Homo sapiens: one gene and its partner. The protein of the gene in region 1 purifies or fractionates together with the protein of each later gene. This does not show direct contact. Each region holds a gene or a part of one and is shown on either strand. Other genes may lie near its edges.

Region 1 (14,161 bases):
ATAAAATTCCAGTGTTGGGAGGCTGCGGCCCGAGAATCGCTTGAGCTCGGGAGGCAGAGGTTGCAGTCAGCCAAGATCGCACCACTGCACTCCAGCCTGGGTGACAGAGTGAAACTCCATCTTGAAACAAAAAAAAAATTCAGATGTCTCCCTGGCCTCCACCCCTCCCACCCACACATCCCGCTCTGGTGTAGGTGAGGTTCCTGACTCCTGAAATGACAGACAAGTGAAAACAGCACTGGCCCAGAAGTGAGGATTCCTAAATTCTCATCTTGGCTCTGCCTCAGAGTGCAGGATAAGCTGGGCTGGGTCTCAGCTTCATGTGCACACAAAGGGAGTGACAACTACACCCCACTCCCTGGGCCTGTCACTGTGAGAGCAAAGGGAGGTCGCAGTGTGTGGAAGCACTTTACAAAGTGATAAGACCGCTGGAAAGTCAGCTGTTATCAGTACTGCCTGTTCCAGGCTGAAAGGCGGCCCCCAGGCCAGATAAGGCAATGGTCAGACCACCCCAGCTCTGCCATGGACTCGCATACAGCCTTGGGCAAACTATTAACCCCTGTGGGCCCTCATTTTCCTAGCTCTAAGTGGAGATACAATGATCACTTGAGTGGGTTGCAGGTGGGATCACAAAGCACGCCAAGCAATGTTCAGCATATGGTAAGGGAATCGACAAATTGTGGTTACAGCTGTTTCCTAGTTCTCTTTCCTACTTACCAGCTCAGAACCACAGGGACTGGACTCCTTGAAGGCAGCAGGGCAAGTATCCCTGCAGCAAGACCAAAGGAAGGCACTCCTGGTCCCTTTTTCAAAGAACCTTAACTCTTCATTGATTTGTTTTGGTTTTGTTTTTGTTTTTGTTTGAGACAGAGTCTCGCTCTGTCACCCAGGCTGGAGTACAGTGGTGTGATCTCAGTTCACTGCAACCTCCGCCTCCCAGATTCAAGCAATTCCTGTGCCTCAGCCTCCGAGTAGCTGGGACTACAGGCGCCCACCACCACGACACCTGGCTAATTTTTGTATTTTAGCAGAGACAGGGTTTCACCATGTTGGCCAGGCTGGTCTCAAATTCCTGGCCTCAAGTGATCCATCTGCCTTGGCCTCCCTAGTGCTGGGATGACAGGTGTGAGCCATCATACCCGGGCCCAATTCTTCATTGATTGGGATTCAACCAATTCATTAGTGGAGGTAATTTGGCCTGGGAGGGGCATTTAAGTTACCTTATGCTACCCACAAAGAAGTGCTTTACTAAGCAGATGAACAGTATAAGCCAAAAAAGAATTCATGAACTACTTAGGAAAAAAAGCCAGTTTTCATCCTTTCCAAGTACTTCTTTCCTTCGAGGCTGCGTATGGATTATTTACAAATCATTCCACATATCACAGAAGATTCCCCAGACCTTTACTTCCAACTCTTTCTTCGGCTTTATATGAATTTAAAAGACATAAAACCACATTTCTTTCACATTACTGAATAATCGAGTTCAAATTTCATTCCCATTGCTTGACTTTGGACAAATAAATATTTAACCTCTAAAAACCTCTTCTATAAATGGTACCTACATCATAGGTTTCTTTTTAGTTAGTTTTTTGTTTTTTTTTTTTTTTTGAGATGGAGTTTCACTCTTGTTGCCCAGGCTGGAGTGCAATGTCGCGATTTCGGCTCACTGCAACCTCCGCCTCCCGGTTCAAGCGATTCTCCTGCCTCAGCCTCCTGAGTAGCTAGGATTACAGGCATTACAGGCATGCGCCACCACGCCAGGCTAATTATGTATTTTTAGTAGAGACGGGGTTTCTCCATGTTGGTCAGGCTGGTCTCGAACTCCCAACCTCAGGTGATCAGCCCACGTCGGCCTCCCAAAGTGCTGGGATTACAGGTGTGAGTCACTCCACCCAGCTATCATAGGTTTCTTAAATTACATTCAAATTAATATAATAATGTATGTAAATATACTAGGTATATAAATACAATAATGTATGTAAAAATTTTTAACACAATGACCAGCACATAGTAAATGCATAAACAATGCTGCTAGTATTATCTTATTGAGTTTAATCCTAATTTGGATCACTTAACCATGTGATCTTGGCCAAATCATTTAACTTTGCTGAACTTTGGTTTCCTGCTTTGTAAAAAGGAAATAACACCTACCTCATAGCCTTGTTATAAGGATGTAATCTTTTTTTTTTTTGGAGACAAAGTCTTGCTCTGTCACCTGGGCTGGAGTACAGTGGCACAATCTCAGCTCACTGCAACCTCCACCTCCCAGGTTCAAGCAATTCTCCTGCCTCAGCCTCTCGAGTAGCTGGGATTACAGGTGCGTGCCACCACCCCCAGCTAATTTTTTATACTCTTGGTAGAGGTGGGGTTTCACCACGTTGGCCAGGCTGGTCTCCAACTCATGACCTCAAGTGATCCACCTGCCTCAGCCTCCCAAAGTGCTGAGATTACAGGTATGAGCCACCGCACCCAGGCAGGATTTATCTTTTTTACCTTTAAAACAATTAGCATGGTGTCTGGCACAAATTCAGTGCTTGATAAATACATATTTGTTAGTTGAATCTGAAGTCAGACTTTTTGATCTCCTAGTTCATTCAGAAGAGTGAGGTCAAGTTTAACAAAAGAGGAAGTCTCCTCAAAAGAAGATGTAATGATGTGCCAGGCACAGTGGCTCACGCCTGTAATCCCAGTACTTTGGGAGGCCAAGGCGGGCAGATCACCTGAGGTTGGGAGTTTGAGACCAGCCTGACCAACATGGAGAAACCCCATCTATATAAAAAATACAAAATTATCTGAGCGTGGTGATGCATGCCTGCAATCCCAGCTACTCAGGAGGCTGAGGCAGGAGAATTGCTTGAACCCGGGAGGCGGAGGTTGCGGTGAGCAGAGATCACACCATTGCACTCCAGCCTGGGCAACAAGCGCAAAACTCTGTCTCAAAAAAAAAAAAGAAAGAAAAAGAAAAAAAAGATGTCATGATGCTTAATAAGAGGGTGAAACCTGAAGAGGAAGGTAATAAGAACAATGACCTATAATTTGAGCACTTACCATGAACCAGGATCTGAGCAAATAATTTTGCATAGAACACTTTATTAATCTTTATGAAAAAATATATGCTATAGGTATTATTATCCTCATGTAAAAGCCAATGTAGATATGACTTATGATCAACTATTAAGCAAACCAAGGAAATGATGGGGAGGAAGGAGGAAGAGAAGGAGACCTGCTTGTTATAACTGCTAATGCTCCAACCAATCACCTGGCCTGCTGGGAAGCCTGGTATGCACATAAAAAAATCAAACACTGAAGTTTAGGACTACAACTAGAAAAAAAAAAAAAAAAGCCAGTGTGAACTTCAGGTATTAGAGGTGATGTTCAAGGGTCCAGAAGAGACCTTTCCTCAATAATCTGCAGTAGTGTGGTCACCTGCTTACTAGAGCAATGAGTCCAGTGGTAGTAACCCCTCTCTAAAAGAATACAGAAGTCTGGAGAGGGATGAGAAGCAAGCCAAGGGTTAGAAGCTAATTCCTATGAGGGGGAAAAAAAAAAAAAGCACAAAAGAAATTGGGAGGCCAGGCACAGTGACTTAATGCCTATAATCCCAGCACTGTGGGAGGCCAAGGTGGGAGGATTGCTTGAGGCCAGGAGTTGGAGTCCAGTCTGGGCAAAATAGCGAGACCCCCATCTCTACAAAACATAAAAACAATGGTACATGCCTGTAGTACAAGCTACTCAGGAGACTGAGGTGAAAGGATTGCTTAAAACCAGGAATTCAAGGTTATCGTGAGCTATGATAGCACCATTGCACTCCAGCCTAGGTGAGAGAGCAAGACCTTGTCTCAAGATAAAATAAAATGATAAAATAAAATAAAATAAATTGAGGCATATCACCTAGAGAATATAAATCTTAGGAGGGATTTGAAAACTATCTCCAAATAGATGGAGGATATCTAGAGGATGCTGAATGGACTAGAATTTCTGAATTGAAACCCAAATACCCTCACTTTGTGGATAAGAAAATTAAGATTTAAAGAAGTGACTTGTCCGAAGTCTCATGGCCAATAATGGAAGAATTAGGGCTAATACGAAAGTCTCCTAATTCCAAATTATGTTCTTTCCACCATAACCAAGATGACAATGAGAAAACCATTATAATCTTCACCAAAAAACAAATGAAAAGATCGCTGGGGTAAAATTAAAGGAAAAACAATTCTGATTCAACAGAAGGAAAAATGTCTTCAAAGTCAGAGGGATAAAAGATCAGAATGAGTTGTCCCCTCCCCATCAGCCCTGAAAGTCTTCAGGAGAGAAGAGATAACCATCTGTTCCAGTTGGCCATTTGGGAAATTAAAATTTTAAATCATTAGTTGATTTTCCAGTCCTCACTAGTGTCATTGTGTTTCTATATCCACGTAAGTATATATTTAACTAAAATGCATTGAAATTAATGCTGCAAGTGAGTATCCACTGAGTATTATGAAAACAGAGTCAGGCTCAATTCACTAGTTTCAAAATGCATATGCCAGCTCTCATGCTCCATTTGTGGGTAAACTGGTGTCACTTTTTTGGAGAGCAACCTGGTAATAACCATTATAATTTAAAATGCACCATCCTTTAAACCCTGCTAGGAAGGCCACAGGCGAAAGAAAGCTGATATCCTCCCACCGGAAACAATCTGAAAGCCTATCAATATAGTCTTGATTAAATTAAAAGGGTACATCTGTGTGTGAGAGTCTATATAATTGTTTAAAAGAATGAGGTAGAACTGTTTGTGTTAATTTTGAAAAGATATCCAAATACTGTATATTATTAAATCCAAGTATATATTTAATAAAAGGTGGACAGTGTGTATCACACGGCTTGATTTGTATAAACTGTATACACTCATACATACACACAAACTTGTGTATCATTATATATTTTTCTGAAAGGATACATAAACACCTGTTCACAGTGGTTGTCTTTGGGAGAGGAATCAGCATGGAAAAAAAGGATTTTTATTTTTTATTATTTACTTTTAAGTAATATGTGTGTGCTTTTTTGCTTTTTTGTTTTACCATGTGCAAATATTCATTTAAGTTTTAAAAGAGAGTATGTGCTTAAAATGAGGGGGTTGGATTAGGTGATTTTTCAAGGTCCCTTCCAATTCCTATAATTTTATGTCCTAGAGGCGTTTGGTGGAGGAAACAGAGGGATACGCTGCAATGACATTGAGTCCTGCTTTACAGCTGGGGACACAGAGCATCACATGATAAAACATTTCATTGGCCCTGCCACCATTAGTGGGTTAGCATATTGGCAGACTTCATGGTGGGAAGAGGGGAAGCTGGTAAACTAAGGAGGGCTTTCCAATAATGGGAACAGAAATGAGGGCTTCCAAATATCTTAGATAGATCTTTGGGGCCAAGAAAAAAAGGCACTAACTTTTGTTAAGCATCTACTATGCTCCAAGCAGTCTGGCAGAGTAGTTGAGGAAACAGATCTGGAATCAGATTGCCTGAGTTTGAATCTTAGCTCTACTGCTGACTGCCATGTGAGACTGGGCAAGTCACCCAATCTCTATGTGTCTCAGTTTATCACTTGTAAAATGGGGGAGGTAACAATTTCTACCTCATGGTGTTGTTATGAGAATTAAAGGAGTTAATCCATATAAAGTGCCTAGGACTATGCCTGACACATGGTAGATGCTCAATATAGGTTTGCTATGATGATGACAGTGATTACTATTACCATGAGGACAACTACTCCTCCTCTTCTTCCTCCTCCTCCTCCTCCTCCAGGAAAGTGCAATAGAGACGGAGAGGTGGGGTTGTCCATACTCACCTTCAATCTGGTCGGCAGTGAAGTCTATCTGTAGGGAGGGAAATAGTAGTGAGGGCTTGGATTGCTAAAAGCAGTTGTAAAGGCCCCCCAAAGGGAAGTAGAAGCAGAAGTGGCTTCCAATGCAGTATGGCCACCTCCAGCAGGCCACTGATAAGCAGGGAAGGTGACTTGTGCTAAGGGTAAAACACAAGTCTCCTGATGAATGAGCCACAACTGACAGGCTATAAAATACCGTCGGCCCTCCTCCCCAGGTTCAACCAACTCTGGATTGAAAATATTCAGAAAACAATAAATAACCACACGAAAATAAAATATAATACAAAAAATACATAACAACTATCACATAGTATTCACATTGTACTAGGTATTATAAGTAACCTAGAGATGATTTAAATTATACAGGAGGTTGTGTGTAGATTATATGCAAATATGCAAACTTTATATAGGAGACTTGAGCATCCTCAGATTTTGGTATCCGTGGGGGTCCTGGAACTAATCCCCTACAGATAACGAGGGACAACTGTAATGCAGACTCCAAAGCTCTCTCAATACCGCTTATTAAGTGATGGCTCCAGGTAAGAGCGAAAGGGAAAGAAAAATTCCCTGGATAATTCTAGAACGTACACGGACTGCCTATTGTAATGCCTCCGGGTCTGAGGTAAATTCTTCATCCTAGCCACCCACAAACTGCCCTCACTGTTGCCCCTTCAATCTCTTCCTAGTCCATAGTCCTCTGACAAGCTGCACTTCTGCCCTCTTTGGGCACCACCACTCCCCACACTCGGACTGCTCTTTCTATTTGATTCTGATTTTAAATCCACTCCCTTCAATGAAGGCTTCCCACACCGCATCCCACTCCAACCCCTCCTTCAGCACATATCCCTCGTTAAGTACAATTTATAAGAGGCCGTTGGTTTGTACTGAGCTCCTACACTAGGACCAACAGACCAAACCAAAATAGATTCACTCATGCTGAAGTTCCATGTCACCAAGCTGAAACTAAGTTGTTCATCTGATTTTCCAAGAAATCAGGAAAATAAGAGATAATAGCCAAATCCCCAAACATGACAGTTTCAGCCAGCTTGATAAGAAAGTGCCATCTGCTTTAACCTTTACAAGAAAAGTAACTTTGCAATGAACAATTTGCATTTTGCTCTCATTTCTGCTTACCTCAGCCTTTCTTTGTCTATAATACCACCTCCTCTGCTCGGCTCATTGTTGCCAGATTCTAGACTCAAACATAAAAGCCAATTCAGATCTTTAAACTAAAATGCCTTCTAATTTTGTCTTCTGACACACTCTTAGGCACTCTGGGACAGCAAGAGCAATTGGCATGGGCCCTCCACGCTTCCTAATTGTTTCCAGTCATGCCTTTACGTGCACTCTGTCTCCTTGAAGCCACTGCTCCCTCAGGCAAGGATTCTTGTTATTGTTCACTGAAATGCTCAGTACATAGTAGGCACTGAAAAACATTTGTTGAATGAAGTAATACATTTTAGATTTCCCCCATATAATGCATAGTAATTTAATGCTGAGTACAGAAGAGGAGAGTGAATGACAATGGCCAAGCATAAGTCATCATTTTATTTTATTTTTTATTCTTATTTTTTGAGATGGAGTTTCGCACTTGTCACCCAGGCTGGAGTGCAATGGTGTGATCTTGGCTCACTGCGACCTTCGCCTCCCAAGTTCAAGCGATTCTTCTGCCTCAGTAGCTGAGATTACAGGCACCCGCCATAACGCCCAGCTAATTTTTGTATTTTTAGTAGAGACAGGGTTTCACCATGTTGGCTAGGCTGGCCTCGAACTCCTGACCTCAGGTGATCCACCTGCCTCGACCTCCCAAAGTGCTGAGATTACAGGCGTGAGCCACCACACCCAGCCCAAGTCATCATTTTGATTTAAGATCTTGTATGTTACCTCGTGGTCCTTATGCACCCCACCCCACCCCATCCCATCCCATCCCCTCTCCACTGGTGGTGGTTCCAATCCTGGAGCCTCTTCTTCAAGTGCCGTCATTCCTAGTCCTAATTCTGCTGCTGCTTGTGCTGTGCCCATCCTGTCTCATCTCCGAGAACTGACCTCCATTCATGAGGACCCAGATATGGCAGCCATGAGCTGGGGATAGGTTGGGGCAGTGGGGAGTTAACTGGGTTGGAAAGAAAACTAGTTGTGGCTAGGAATAGACTGCCAAAAGTAGGGGGTGGTCAGAAAGTTAAAGGAACCCCCTAGATGGGGTGAAGGATGCTCTGCATTCACTCTCTGAGGAAAAGGCACAGTTTGCCTTACTTTACAATGCTTTAAGAACCAGGAATAAACATGTAAGAGCAATTAATGTAAAAACTTAAAATCTCAATAGACGTGGTCCTAACTACACACACTGGGCTTAAGTTTGCTTCTGTTCTATCTTCGAATCTTTTTTATAATTTATTTATTTATTTGTAGAGACAAGGATCTTGCCATGTTGCCCAGGCTGGACTCAAATGCCTGGCCTCAAATTACCCTCCCGCCTCAGCCTCCCAAAGGGCTGGGATTATAAACATGAATCACCTCATCTGGCTTCTCTTCTGTCTTGGAGTAAAGAACCTTCTAATCAAAGGAACTGGGTAAGTATAACACAATAATAGGGAAAATGTCTCTCATAAAAGATACCTATTTTTTTTCTACTTCAAAGCAACTTCAACAACCCCCATGAAGATGCAGATATGGAAAAGAGGATTGCAACCAGGGGTGCAATTTCTCACGGGTGAGAAATTGAGAGAGGAGAGTGAATGAAAGAAGTGACAGGCCAAGGGAAGGACACCAGTTTGATGCCACTAGGCAGCTGTTGCCCAGACACCAGGGACAAGGCCTGGCAACCCACCCAAAGGCACAGTGCTTTATGGGAACAAATCAGAAATAAAGGCGAGGAGGGATCCTGAAGGGTGAAATAGTCAGCTTTTCCTGCCAGGCTCAGCTTGTAAATGGAGTGATGTATGACCTAGAAAACCTGCAGGTGTTTTCAGGGTCCTACAGTAGCCTCAGTTTCCCCAGAGTGAGCCATAACCAAGCTCAGAAAAGGGACAATTGCCTCCATCTCTTGGCTAAGCAGTTCCTGTCCCTTGCGGGGACTGGGTCTTTGGCATAATACTTGTAGGGTTATCCCGGCTGTGGGTATGAGAGGAATTCTCAGAGGGCAGGGAGGTCATACAATTAGAGCTCTGGGTTTTAATTTCCCTGCCTGCTTGTCACAGAACCTTGTCCTGTGCTCTTATTTTGACCTGATCCCTCACCACCCCCAGCCCTGTCCTAAGGCTGAGATCCCTGGGGGCTCAGCACTCCCAACCTGTTATTAATAGCTCTTCATACCAGTAGCCACTTGACCTTTTCCACTCTGGTGCCAAGGCTTAAAACTGCTCCTCTTCAGAGGTCTCTGGCCCCCTCCCTCTTCAGCCCACCCCTCTCCCACCAGTTCCATTCCTTCAGCAGCTGGGCCAGAGAGCTGGGAGGTCTAAAATGACTGAGTCAGCATGCAGGGCCCACACCAGCTCCAGGGAGAGGAATGTTTTGTGTGAGGAGAGCAGGGTGGGGCAAAGGAACCAGGCCCAGCTTCCTGACCCGGTTGGAGAGAGGGTCTCAGCCCAGGGTGGGCCAGTCCTCTGCATGCTACAGATAGGAACCCAGGCTAAGGCCACAGAAGGAAAGGCCCGTCTGGGTAAGGAAAGAGAGAGAGGAATCCGGGCTCCTCTTACCTTAACCACAACCTCCTTCCCACCCTGCCCTCACCTGCCGTAAGAGTGTTTGTGAGTGAAGCCTTTCCCAAACTGCCATGCACAGGGAGGATATTCCCTGACTGTTTATATCACTTACTCCAAGTTACACTGGCAGCTGCCATGATCTGTCTGTTCTCCATAAAGATATCCCACTACCTCCTAGGAAAAGGCTAGTCTGTTTTACTTTGCTATGGTGGTCCTCATAATGCCTTATAAAAGGGTGGATGGATGGTTGGTTGTACCTCCCCCCATTCCCAACTTAGCTGCACAAATCTAGGGTAGCAGGACAGGGCTCCCTCAAAGCAGCACCTCATTCTTGACGGAAAAGGTTTATGACTCAATCTCCCCCTCATCAGCCCCAACACCCACTCCACTGCCCCATGGGACTGCGATCTGGGGCATGGACACCCTAGTCCTCATCCCAGTCCAGCCCACATAAAGTAGATCGCTAAGCTCCAGAGCAAAAGGACTCTCAATGTCATCCCCACCTCTATCCCAATGGCTGAGCCTCACTTACCTTTACACTCTTGGGGTCAAAGGCAGGTTCCTTGGGAGCCTCAGGAGCTGGGGCAGGGGCTGGTGCAGGGGCTGGAGCTGGAGCTGGAGCTGGCTTGGCTGCCTCCTTCTTAGGCTCAGGCTTCTTGGGAGCCATGTTGTCTTGTTGGGATCTTTGGCAGAGGAGTGATCTAAGAAGAAACCGAGAGACGTGGCGTCTGGGAGATGAGATAGGAGCCTGGGCTGCCTCCCTTCCCTTTTATCCTGGGCAGGAGCCCCCACAGAGGGGCTGGGTGAAAGCAAGAGCAACTGCTGCTGACTATAAAAGGAAGAAACGCCAGCAGGGTACAGCTGACAACTGTGTATTGTCACCAGGTTTGGGGCCACCAGCCCCCTCCCCTTCATGCCACAGCTCTCTCTTCACCTCTAGGACAGGCTGATCCCTTCTTGCCAATTGGTGGAAACCCAGAAGGACCAGGGAAACAGACCTTCTCAAATATGCCGGAGCAGCCAGAGAGATGAGCTGACTTGAGCAGTTGATAAGCCTCACACAAAGCCCAGGGGAGGGTGAGGCTTTTTTTAGCCCCTCCCGAGCAGAGGCAGCCCACTGCACATTCCTTCTAAGCCAAGATCCTTTAAGCTGAGAGCCACTCTGGGCCCTCAGCTCTGCCTAGAGGCCCAACTCTCCAGGCATGGAGCTCTGAAGCAACAGCTGGTCCAGCCAACCCACACTGCCCCACACCCTCCCAACTCACAGGATGAAAGCCTCCATTTTCCAGAGCAGGCATCCCAGGAACTCCACAGACCTCAGATCCCTAGATCTACCCCCTTACACACAACCTCAGTCATTCATTCAACAAGTAGTGAGCACTGAACCCATGCCTAGGCACCTAGGAGAGAAGCAGAGAGATGTGGTAGAAAGTCGAGGAGACTGAGGGTCAGAAAACTTGGGGTTTAGTTTTCACTTTACCTCTAACTCATTCTGTGCTCTGTGTGTGTGTGTGTGTGTGTGTGTGTGTGTGTGTGTGTAGTGCTTACTACTATCAGTACCAGGAACTGTTAAGTGCTATTCATATAAAATCTCATTAAATCTTCACCATGATCCTATAAGGTAGATACTATTTTGTTTGTTTGTTTGTTTTAACAGAAACAAGGTATCGCTCTGTTGCTCAGGTTGCAGTGCAGTGGTGCAATCACAGCTCACTGCAGCCTCGTCTTTCCTGGCTCAAGCGATTCTCCCACCTCAGCCTTCCGAGTAGCTGGGACTACAGGTGCACACCAGCACACTTGGCTAATTTTGGGGGAGTTTTTTTGTTTTTTGTTTTTCAGTAGAGATGAGGTCTTGCTAAATTGCCCAGGTTGGTCTTGAACTCCTGAGCTCAAGGGATCCACTAGCCTCGGTCTTCCAAAGGGCTGGGATTATAGGCATAAGCCGCCACGCCAGGCCAGGTAGATACTATTATTATTTTCACTTTACACATGGGGAGATTGAGACTAAAACTGGATGAACAACTTGGCCAAGGTCACTCAAATAATTAGCTATAAGCTGGGATTAGATGTAGATATGTCTGAGTCTAAAGCCTATGCTTGAATAATGTATATGATAATCCAGTTGTCGGGGAGAGACATACAAGTTTCTGCATTTATTGGAGGAGTCAGGATGGATACACGCTGAACTGTTAACAGAGACACCTCTGGGGACCTAGGGGGTAAGGGTGGGAGGATAACAGCAATTTGCAGTTTTTTACTTTTTTCACTTCCTGTATTAATGGAAATTTTTATAACGAGCATTTACTGTTTATGTAAAAAAAACTTTGAAAGTCAACAAAATAATTCAGAAAAATAACAACAAAAAAGCTTATGTATCCACTACACAAAACTGCTTTGTGCTGAATCTTTAGACTCTACAGTTCAGAGGAAAAGAGGAATAAAGCTGAGAGAGGCAAAAAAATCACTTCGCCTTTCTAGGCCCAGTTTCCTCACCTGTAAAGCAAGATTGCTAGACTACAGAATCCTGGTTGCTGTTAGCTCCTAAGCCTGCAATTCTGGGTGCCCTGGAGCCCACATCTGCCCATTTCCCAGCTCTCTAACTACAGGTTCCATGCCCCAGATCATTGCCTTCAGAGCCAGAAGGACCCTTAGAGATCATCTGGCCCCATGCTGTTTTACAGGCAAGGAATCTAAGGTCCAGGGAAACGTTGAAGTTGCCTCAAGACATTCAGCTACTTATAGGCAGAGCTGGGCCAACTAATTCTGTTTCCTGGGGTGCAGTGCTCTCTGTAGCACACTGCTCTTCACTGCTCCTCCTGTAGCCTATACACGCTCACTGGTGGTGACAGAGAAGCCCTCAAAGGAAACGGGCAGGAAAAAGGGCCAGGACTTGCTCAAGGGAATACTAGAACGAGACCAGGGCCCAGATTCTAGCCCAGCCCTGGTCCTGAGCTGGGATGGTGGCTCCTTTGCTCTGTGCACCTCACCTCCTCCCCTCATCTTCTGCCTCACCTCTCTTCCTTGCCGGCTACCAAACTTGATTCCTTGTACCTTCGCTCGCACTCTTCTATAATCCCTGTCAGTCCTCTCCTTGACCTACCCCATTCCCCACAGGGGTTGGGAGTTCAGGTTGTTGGTGACGAGGAAAGAGAAAAAGTGGAAGCCCAGGCCCTCCTCCTTCTCCACCTCCACCTGCATCCCTTCCTGGACTGCATCCTGCGGAGTTTGTGCAAAAATATACAAACTGGGATTTCTGTAAAGAGCTGCAGGATAGAAGCTGGGAGACCCAGGCACTAGTCCTGACTCTGCCAGCCACTTCCTCTCTCTGGGCCTCAGCTTGCTTATTTTAAAAGGAAAAACAATCAGGAGACTTTCAAACCATGTTCAACAGAATCCTGAGACTAGCAATCTTGCTATCTTGCTTTATAGGGTGACATGCTTCTGGCTGCAGGGTACATAGAAAGGCCAGACCTTGGAGCTCCTTCCACCACCATCACTTCAGTCACCACCACTCCTGTGTTTTACATACTGGAGCTCCCAGTATGTAAAACAGTATCATTTTCTAATGGTTCCATGGCTTAAAATTTTTTTAAATAATCACTGAATGACACATGCCCCCTTCCAGTTAAAACACACACGCACACACAACAAGTTAGTATTATGTTATTGTTGTAGTTATTCTACAAAGACGTATGATCCTCAGAAGAAAAAGCTGGAAGGTTGTTCTTTCCTTTTCTTCTTTTCCTTTTTTCCCCCACCCCACTCCCCTTTCTTTTCTAAATTCTAAGAAGCAAAATATCAGGTCTGCATGGGAACAGAGCTATGAGGTTAGAAAGCTGGGAAAGCCGAATGGGGCTCCGGAGACATCCAAAATCACGCAAATACTGTGGACTCTGGAGGTAGACAGTGATGGGTCTGAAGCCTGGTTTTGCCACTTTCTAATCTAGGCCTTAGTAGCCTCAGGACCTTTGAGGATAAACATTTCCTTTTCAAATTGTCATGAGATTTGTATGAAATAATGTTAAGTAAGGCACTGCAAACAACCTCTGCCATGTAGGAAACATTCGAAGATGTTCATTTCACTTTCCTTTGCCAAGCAGGTTGAAGCTAGAGGTGCATTCAGGCTTCCCAGATTTGGAACTTCCAGAGAGAGGTCCACATGAGAAAGGGACAAGGTAAGGTGACAGTGGCTAAAGGGATTTTAAGGTGTGGGATTAGGAATGAGGAAGAGGTGGAAAGGAATGGAAGCGGGGGGAAGGGCAGCAGCTGGGAACTCATGGTGTAAAATATTTGTGGCTCAGAAAGCATGTGGCAAGTCTCTAGGGCCAGGCAGCCTGTCTGACGGAGAACACTCAGAGAAGGCATGCCCAACCACCTGAAACCTTAGGCACAGGAGCCCCAGCAGGGGAGGAGACGCTCCTCAAATCAGTTTCGGATTCGTTTTCAGCAGCCCCAGTGAAAAAAGTGCCTGGCACTTCAGAAACAACTGGAGGAGAGCTGTGGTTTCAGGGAAAGAGCCATGCATGAAGAAGCAACATATCAACCCCTGGCCTTGTTTTTACTAAAATTCATGACGCCACGCTTCATTAGAGCCCAGTAAC
Region 2 (7,000 bases), on another chromosome or scaffold:
GAAGGCCTTGCCAGCCGCAGCGTGCTGTAGGAGCTGAGCCACAGCCCCCAGGGCATGGCGCTGGGGGGCAGCCAGGGCTCCACCAGCTGCCATGGCCACAATGTCGAAGGCGTCAGGAGCCACCACAGCTGGGTTCAGGAAGCGGTAGTACAGGAGGTTCCCGACCACCTGAGGGCAAAGGAGACTCTCCCAGAAGTGTCCAGGGGCCGCCTTGACTGGTGCGGCCCCACATTCTCAGCTTGCTTGGCTGGAAGGGACACCTGGGCCAACCCCCTCACTTCAAAGAAAACAGGCCCAGAGCAGGCAGACAACTTGCTTAAGGCCACACAGCAAACCTGAGCAAGAGCTGGGACTTGAACCCAGATCTCCTGACAAGAAGCCAGTGTTGCCCACTCTGTTCGCTCACACCCCAGCATGAGCCATCTGCCACCTGAAGCCCTGCGGGTGAGCCAGGCTCCATTTATAGGGGGCAGCATATTTCCCTCCTTGGATTTTTATGGCATAGGATTTTTTGTGTTTTTGTCTCAGTCTGGGGATTGCAGGTACCAGCAAAGCAAAGGAGGGATTGGGAGGTGGGGGTGGGGAGACAACACTTGCCTTATAGACCTCGCTGTCTGTGGCGTCAGGGAATTTCTCTGCCAGAGTTGCCTTCAGGACTTTGGCCACATATCGCATCCCATACCTGGGGACAAAGAAACAGGTGCGCGTGGCTGTGCCTCTGCCCATCTCTCTCTGCCAGAGATAAGAGCTTGAGTGCCTGGCTGTCTCTTCTCCCCCAGGCTCAGCCACTCCAGAGTAGAGCTCAAGCACTGTCCCTCCACTAGCCATAGCCAGCTCCCTGCTGCCTTCCTCCAAACGTCTCTGGGCCTTGTCCCTTCCTCCTGCCTTATGTCAGTAGTCAGGACCAGGGCCCTATCATCTACTAAATCTCTCACACAGCCTCCAACCTGGCTCGAGAACCTCTTCTTTGAGACTCTCTGGGTCCCCTGCAGAGCACCCCAGCTCACCATAGCCATCCCCCATCCCCCAGAGGCACCATTAACCTAAAGCTTGGGTATCTGACACTCACAGCCAAAACCCTGTCCTAGGACAGCCTAGGTGGCTCCGAGGTAGTCAACCTTGTCAGCTGTCACAGAGCATCTGTGAGTGGCCTAGTCTGGGCTAGAGGTAGGGCCCCAAGGAGATCAGTGAGCCGGGAGGAGAAGCTCCAGTTTGGACTCCACCACCAACCAGAGATATTATCTTAGACTATTTCCTTCTCCTTTGTAAGTCTGTCCCCTGGTCTAGAAAATGGGAATGATCATTCTTGCCTTCTCTTCTCACAGGGCTTTTTGAGGATCAAGTGAAATTATGTCTGCGAGAGTAACGTATAATGGTAGAGTACTATTCAAATGTGCTAGACTGTATTATCATTATTATTCCTATTATGGATGTGCCACCTACAAATGTAATTAAATTCATTTAAAAGCAATTTCCACTCCTAGGGTACCAGAGACAGAAGTTTACAGCTCATTGTGTACTTTACTTTCTTAAGCCTAGAACAATCTTTTCTTACTCCTAATTGTAAACTCTTAATCCGGTTCTCCAGGTTTGGGGAGCAGGGTTATAAACTCTGTGGGTTCCCCCTTTCAACATCCTCATCTTGCCCTGGGCATTCCAGCCTGGGCAATGGAGTGAGACCCTGTCTTAAAAATAATAATAATAAAAAATAAAGAAAAACAAACAAAAAAAGAATGAAAGCCTGTCATTTTCGACAACATAGATGAACGTAGAGGTTCGTGTTAAGTGACATACATAAGCCAAACACAGAAGGACAAATACTGCATAATCTCACTCATATGTGGAATCTTAAAAAGGTGATTTCACAGGAGTAGAGAGTAGAATGGTGGTTACCGGAGTCTGGGGAGGGTAGGAGAAGGGGAGAGAGGATGGGGAGAGGTTGGTCAATGGGTACAAAGTTACATCCAGGTAGAAAGAATAAGTTCTGGTGCTCTATTGCACAGAAGGTGACTATAGTTGATAATAATGTGTTGTATATCTCAAAATAGCTAGAAGGATTTTGAATGTTCTCACCAAAAAGAAATAAATGTTTGAGGTAATAGATATGCTAATTACCCTGATTTGATCATTCATTGCACAATGTATACACGTATCAAAACATCACACTATACCCTATGAATATGTACAATTATCATGTGTCAAAAATAAATGTAGAAAACCAAACGTATTGACTAAATTTTAAGAAAAGAGAGAACTATAAAGTACTTTATGGGCTTAAAATATTTATTTTTGATATTGGGAACTGAAGAGTCCCATTTTCTCCTCATTTGCTCTTAGCTAATAAAGTGTCCCTGAGATCATTTTAGGGTCCCTCCTCTGGTTCCACTGACATCCTACCAGGCCACACACAGACTTGCACGCCGTCTCTCAGCTCAGCTCTCTAGCAGGAGCTTCGAGCATTCCCCACATCTCTTCAGGAACCCCTCTGAGTACCCCTGGCTCCATCTCCCTCCCTGCCTTCCTCCCTGCAGGACTATCACCCTGCTCTGCTCCCCATGGTGGCCTGGCCCTCTTGAAATCCCATGCGTAGGCTGGGGTGGGGCTGTTGCACATACGGAATTTGGTCCACAGATGAGGTGATGGCTAAAAGGAACTTATCAGTCATGGCGAGGAGGTTGCGTAGGGCGATGTCCAGTCGTCTCTGGACCTCGGGGTGGCTCAAGGCCTGCTCCGGGGTGACATCATATGGGAGATGGCTATGAGCAGAGAGAGACAAGGTGTAAGCAGGAGCCCCCTCCAATGGCCTCCTTCCCCAAGGCCCTATTCCTTAAACGCTTGTCTAACAACAAGATCTCATACAGATGTGCTAAGGACAGCTCAGCATGCTAAAGGAGAAAGGGCCAGAATGAGAGAAAGGACTGGAGAAATGCAGTCGGGAGGTAAAGAAGAGTTGGAGTATCTACAGGGAAGCTGGAAGAATGTAGGAAGGAACAGAGAACGTGGAATCTAGGGACCCTTCTAAGGGGAACAGATGACAAGCAGGCGGCTGCGCTGCAAATAGTCTTTGGGAGTTTGGAATAATGGAGAGGCTGGGCCAGAGCCTTATAGTTCCCTCACCTAAAGCCTCCTGTGCCATCCAGAGCAGCCACCAGGATTGCCTGCTCGCCTCTGTGGCTAGGTTTCCCTAGCACCTAGGGACCTGAGTAATGACCCCAGGCTATAAGGGCAACCTATCTCTCCCACTATCTCATTTGCCTATTCATCTGTAAATAGAAATATTCTTCTATACCCCTATCAATAGGAGTCCATATCCTAACTCCCAGCAAATTTTTTTTTTTTTTTTTGCGGGGGGACAGAGTCTCACTCTGTTGCCTAGAGCTGGAGTGCAGTGGTGCAATCTCGGCTCACCGCAACCTCCCAGGTTCAAGTGATTCTCTTGCCTCAGCCTCCCGAGTAGCTGGGACTGCAGGAGTGCGCCACAACACCCGGCGAATTTTTGTATTTTTTATTTTTGAGACAGAGTCTCGCTCTGTCGCCCAGCCTGGAGTGCAGTGGCACGATCTCGGCTCACTGCAAGCTCTGCCTCCCAGATTCATGACATTCTCCTGCTTCAGCCTCCCGAGTAGCTAGGACTACAGGTGCCTGCCACCACGCCCGGCTAATTTTTTGTATTTTTAGTAGAGATGGGGTTTCACCATGTTAGCCAGGATAGTCTCGATCTCCTGACCTCGTGATCCGCCTGCCTCGGTCTCCCAAAGTGCTGGGATTACAGGCGTGAGCCACCACGCCTGACCTACATTTTTAGTAGAGATAGAGTTTCACCATGTTGGCCAGGCTGGTCTCAAACTCCTGACCTCAGGTGATCTGCCCACCTTGAGCCCCCCAAAGTGCTGGGATTACAGGCGTGAGCCACTATGTCCGGCCCTACTACCACCAAATTTGACACATCATTTGCAAGCACTGACATAGCAATTAAGCACATTTGCATATTCATCTGTACTCATTTTATGTTAAGCCCACCAGGTCTGAAGTCATTTACATCAGTTTCATGTTAATTATCAGAGGGGGTCTAAAAGACTACCTTATTCATGCCTACAAAGCTGGTGTCATATTTGCATAGATCAGCATGCCCATTTATATGCCACCTTCAAAGTACACCCAAGCTTCCCCAGTAGGGTCCAAGACACAGCTGATCAAGACACAGCTGATCAAAGAGAGCTCCTCCCTCTGCCCATGTGCTCACCTGCGCTGCCCTGTCTGGGCCTCAGTCTGGTTGATCCAGTTCTTATAGAGGTGGACAGGGTCTGTGTGGACGCTGAGCACTTTGTCTTCTAGCACATCCTGGATAACCTTGCCCAGAATCTCCTGCAGGGCACTCTGTCCCCGCCCATTACGGTAGAATCTCACCACCAGCCTCACCACTGTTGGGTTGCCTGTCACCACGTCCTGGGGCTGCTCCACCTTTGACCTGTGGTTTAAGAGGTCATTGAAACCAGTCTTCTGCCTCTGTGTAGGACATACCGTTGCTTTTCCTTTTTGAGATTTTGGCTCTCAAAGCCTGCCCTGGTGTCCCCGCTCTTAAGGAATGTCTTGATATCTCTCTCATCCTTTGTGTTAGCATGTCAGCCCATATCCTCCCACTGTGCTGTCCCAGATGTTTTACGGTTTCTCCACAGGAGGTAGAGAAAAGAGGTCTTCTGATTCCATTTCTACCCTTAGGCCTCAACAAGTTGTCACCTTGTGAAGGAGCCAACAGGGGGATCTCTTAACCCATTCTCTCCCCATTCCTTTGTGTCTGGAGAGCCTACTTGATTTCCTCCTGGAGTGCTGTCTTGAACAGCTGGAGCAGGAGATAGGCCTCTCGGCGGCTGGAGGCATAGTTGTACAGGCTGAAAATCACTGCCTCCATGAACTTGGTGGTTTTGTTCTGTGGCATCTGAAAGATCAGCTTGGCCAGGTAGATGGGCTGAGTCTGCAAGCAAGAGGGGAGACAGGAATGGCTGACCATGCACTTCAAGGACCAGTGATAGGATAAGGAAAGGCTTTCCCCTGATGGAAATCTGGAATGGAGAAAGCACTACCACACTTTCTCCAGGTGCTAGTAACATTCCAGACAAACAGGGGAAGAGGTAGTCTCCTTTCCTGGGGATAAGGAATTAAGATTATGGGAAAGGACACCTTGCATGGTGCCAAACGCACAGACAAGAAGGCCTTGAAGTCTCAGACCCTCAGGAGACGGGAGAGACTTCTCCTTGGAAAGTCCTCTGCTAACCTGGAGCAGGTAGAAGAGGTGTTGGTATGCTTCTAGTTTCTGCCGTTTCTCTTTGCTCAGCGACTTTAAACCCTTCTGCTTGTCCAGAACCATCATATCTGACAGCTGTTCCTTATTCCTCTTGGTCAGCTTCTTGCAGTGGGAGACCACTTCCTGCAGGGGTGGAGGAGCGGGTGATACAACTAGCCTAGGCCATCCCAGGGCACAGAACATACGGTCTAGAATCAGTGCCTTGAAGAGCCAGGGCTTTCTGCTGTTCAAGGAACAGGCATAAGCTGGGGGACAGAAGCAGTTCTAGGGTGAGGAAGGGCCCCTCCAAGTGCCCTGAGACTCCATCTGTTTCCTCTCCTGTCATGGGAGTGAGTCCCCAAAGAGAACTGGTTTGCCAGGCTGAGGAATTGTGTCTATTTGGCTTTTGCTATCTCTTCTTATTAGACTGCTACACACATTTGAGGTGGAGCTATCACTATATCACTATTACCCTGTCACTGCATATTTATATGGTAATTTATGATTTAAACAGCTTTCATATCTGTCTCTATATTTGGCCTGGAGAGGTGGACATTCTCATTATTCTCAGTTTGCTAATGAGAAAACAGACTTAGAAGTGAAATGAGCACCCACAGCCCCATCCCTGGGAATCAGCAGAGCCAGGCATTCTGATTCTAGGTTTCATGCTCTTTCTACTCTGTCATGGGTCCCCCAAAATGATTTATTAGAATGGCAGAGGGCCACTGGAACAAGGACCTGAGTCAGGTGACAAAATCCACAACATTTTGAAAAAAATTGATTAGCAAGCAGAGAATGGTCAGCATCACATCTCCAGAGGCAGGCAGATCTCGGGGAGGGGAGGACTGGTGGGCCCCATACCTGCAGAGTGATCCGGTTCTTCACCAGCAGGCCAATCTTGATGTCCATGATGTTGAGGTCCTGCTCCAGCTGCTGATTGGATCGGATCTTCCTAACTACCTCTTCCTGGAGCTTCAGCAGCTCTGCCTCAGCCAAGAAGTCTTGCTGGCTTTGATTCAAGAGATGGGCAAATCTGCGTACCACACTGAGAGGAGGGTGGGGTGCATGCACTGGGAGGAAGGGAGGAGGCATCAGGATTAGCCATGCCTCATCAGAGGCCTCCTCACCAGCCCCTGCCCGAGTCAGCCCACCCCAGTCCCCGTTCTGCTTGGGATCAGCAGGTCCCCAACCCCAGTCCTCTTCTAACTGGTTCTGCTTGCACTTGGAGGGCAGTGGGTAGCCTTCTAGCCAGGCCTGTCCCTGAGCTTCCTGTCTTATAACTGGAGATGACATAATAGCTGCTCTTCCCATGCCTCTGATTCACCCCAGCCTGGGTCTATCCCAGGGACCTCTGACACCAAAGCCAGAGCCACAGCTCCCTCTGATTATCCTCCCAGACCTCCCTAGTCTACCCCAATCTACCACTCACTTCTGCTGGGCCAACCTGCTCCTCCTCCTCCTCCTACCTGCCAGCCACCACTCAGCCCTGCTTGCTCCCACAGTGCTCCTCTGTCAGGAATGTCTGTACACACCGGGAAGGACAGGTAGACGGGATGGACAGTGGGCTTTATAATTTAGGGGAGGTCAGAGCTAGCTGGTGATTCTCCTTGAATCACCTTTGGAATTGGCATTTGAGCAAAAAAGAAAGAAGCCTCTGAGCTAATTTATTGGAAATAACAACAAAACAACTAATACATAGAATGTTTACTATGAGACAGA

The links.
Region 2: the proteins of MYL4 (region 1) and IQGAP3 purify together in Homo sapiens (co-immunoprecipitation; 2 studies listed by BioGRID and IntAct, with this or other methods). This does not show direct contact.

What each region holds. Positions count from the first base shown.
Region 1 is NC_000017.11:47,205,489-47,219,649, reverse strand, and holds the start of MYL4 (myosin light chain 4), read right to left. Parts: upstream 10,303-14,161; 5' UTR 10,228-10,302; coding exon 10,093-10,227; intron 5,852-10,092; coding exon 5,824-5,851; coding exon of another isoform or gene 5,731-5,823; intron 1-5,730. UniProt on the Homo sapiens protein: Regulatory light chain of myosin. Does not bind calcium.
Region 2 is NC_000001.11:156,534,566-156,541,565, forward strand, and holds part of IQGAP3 (ras GTPase-activating-like protein IQGAP3), read right to left. Parts: intron 6,352-7,000; coding exon 6,143-6,351; intron 5,426-6,142; coding exon 5,273-5,425; intron 4,973-5,272; coding exon 4,809-4,972; intron 4,469-4,808; coding exon 4,244-4,468; intron 2,757-4,243; coding exon 2,616-2,756; intron 683-2,615; coding exon 598-682; intron 169-597; coding exon 1-168.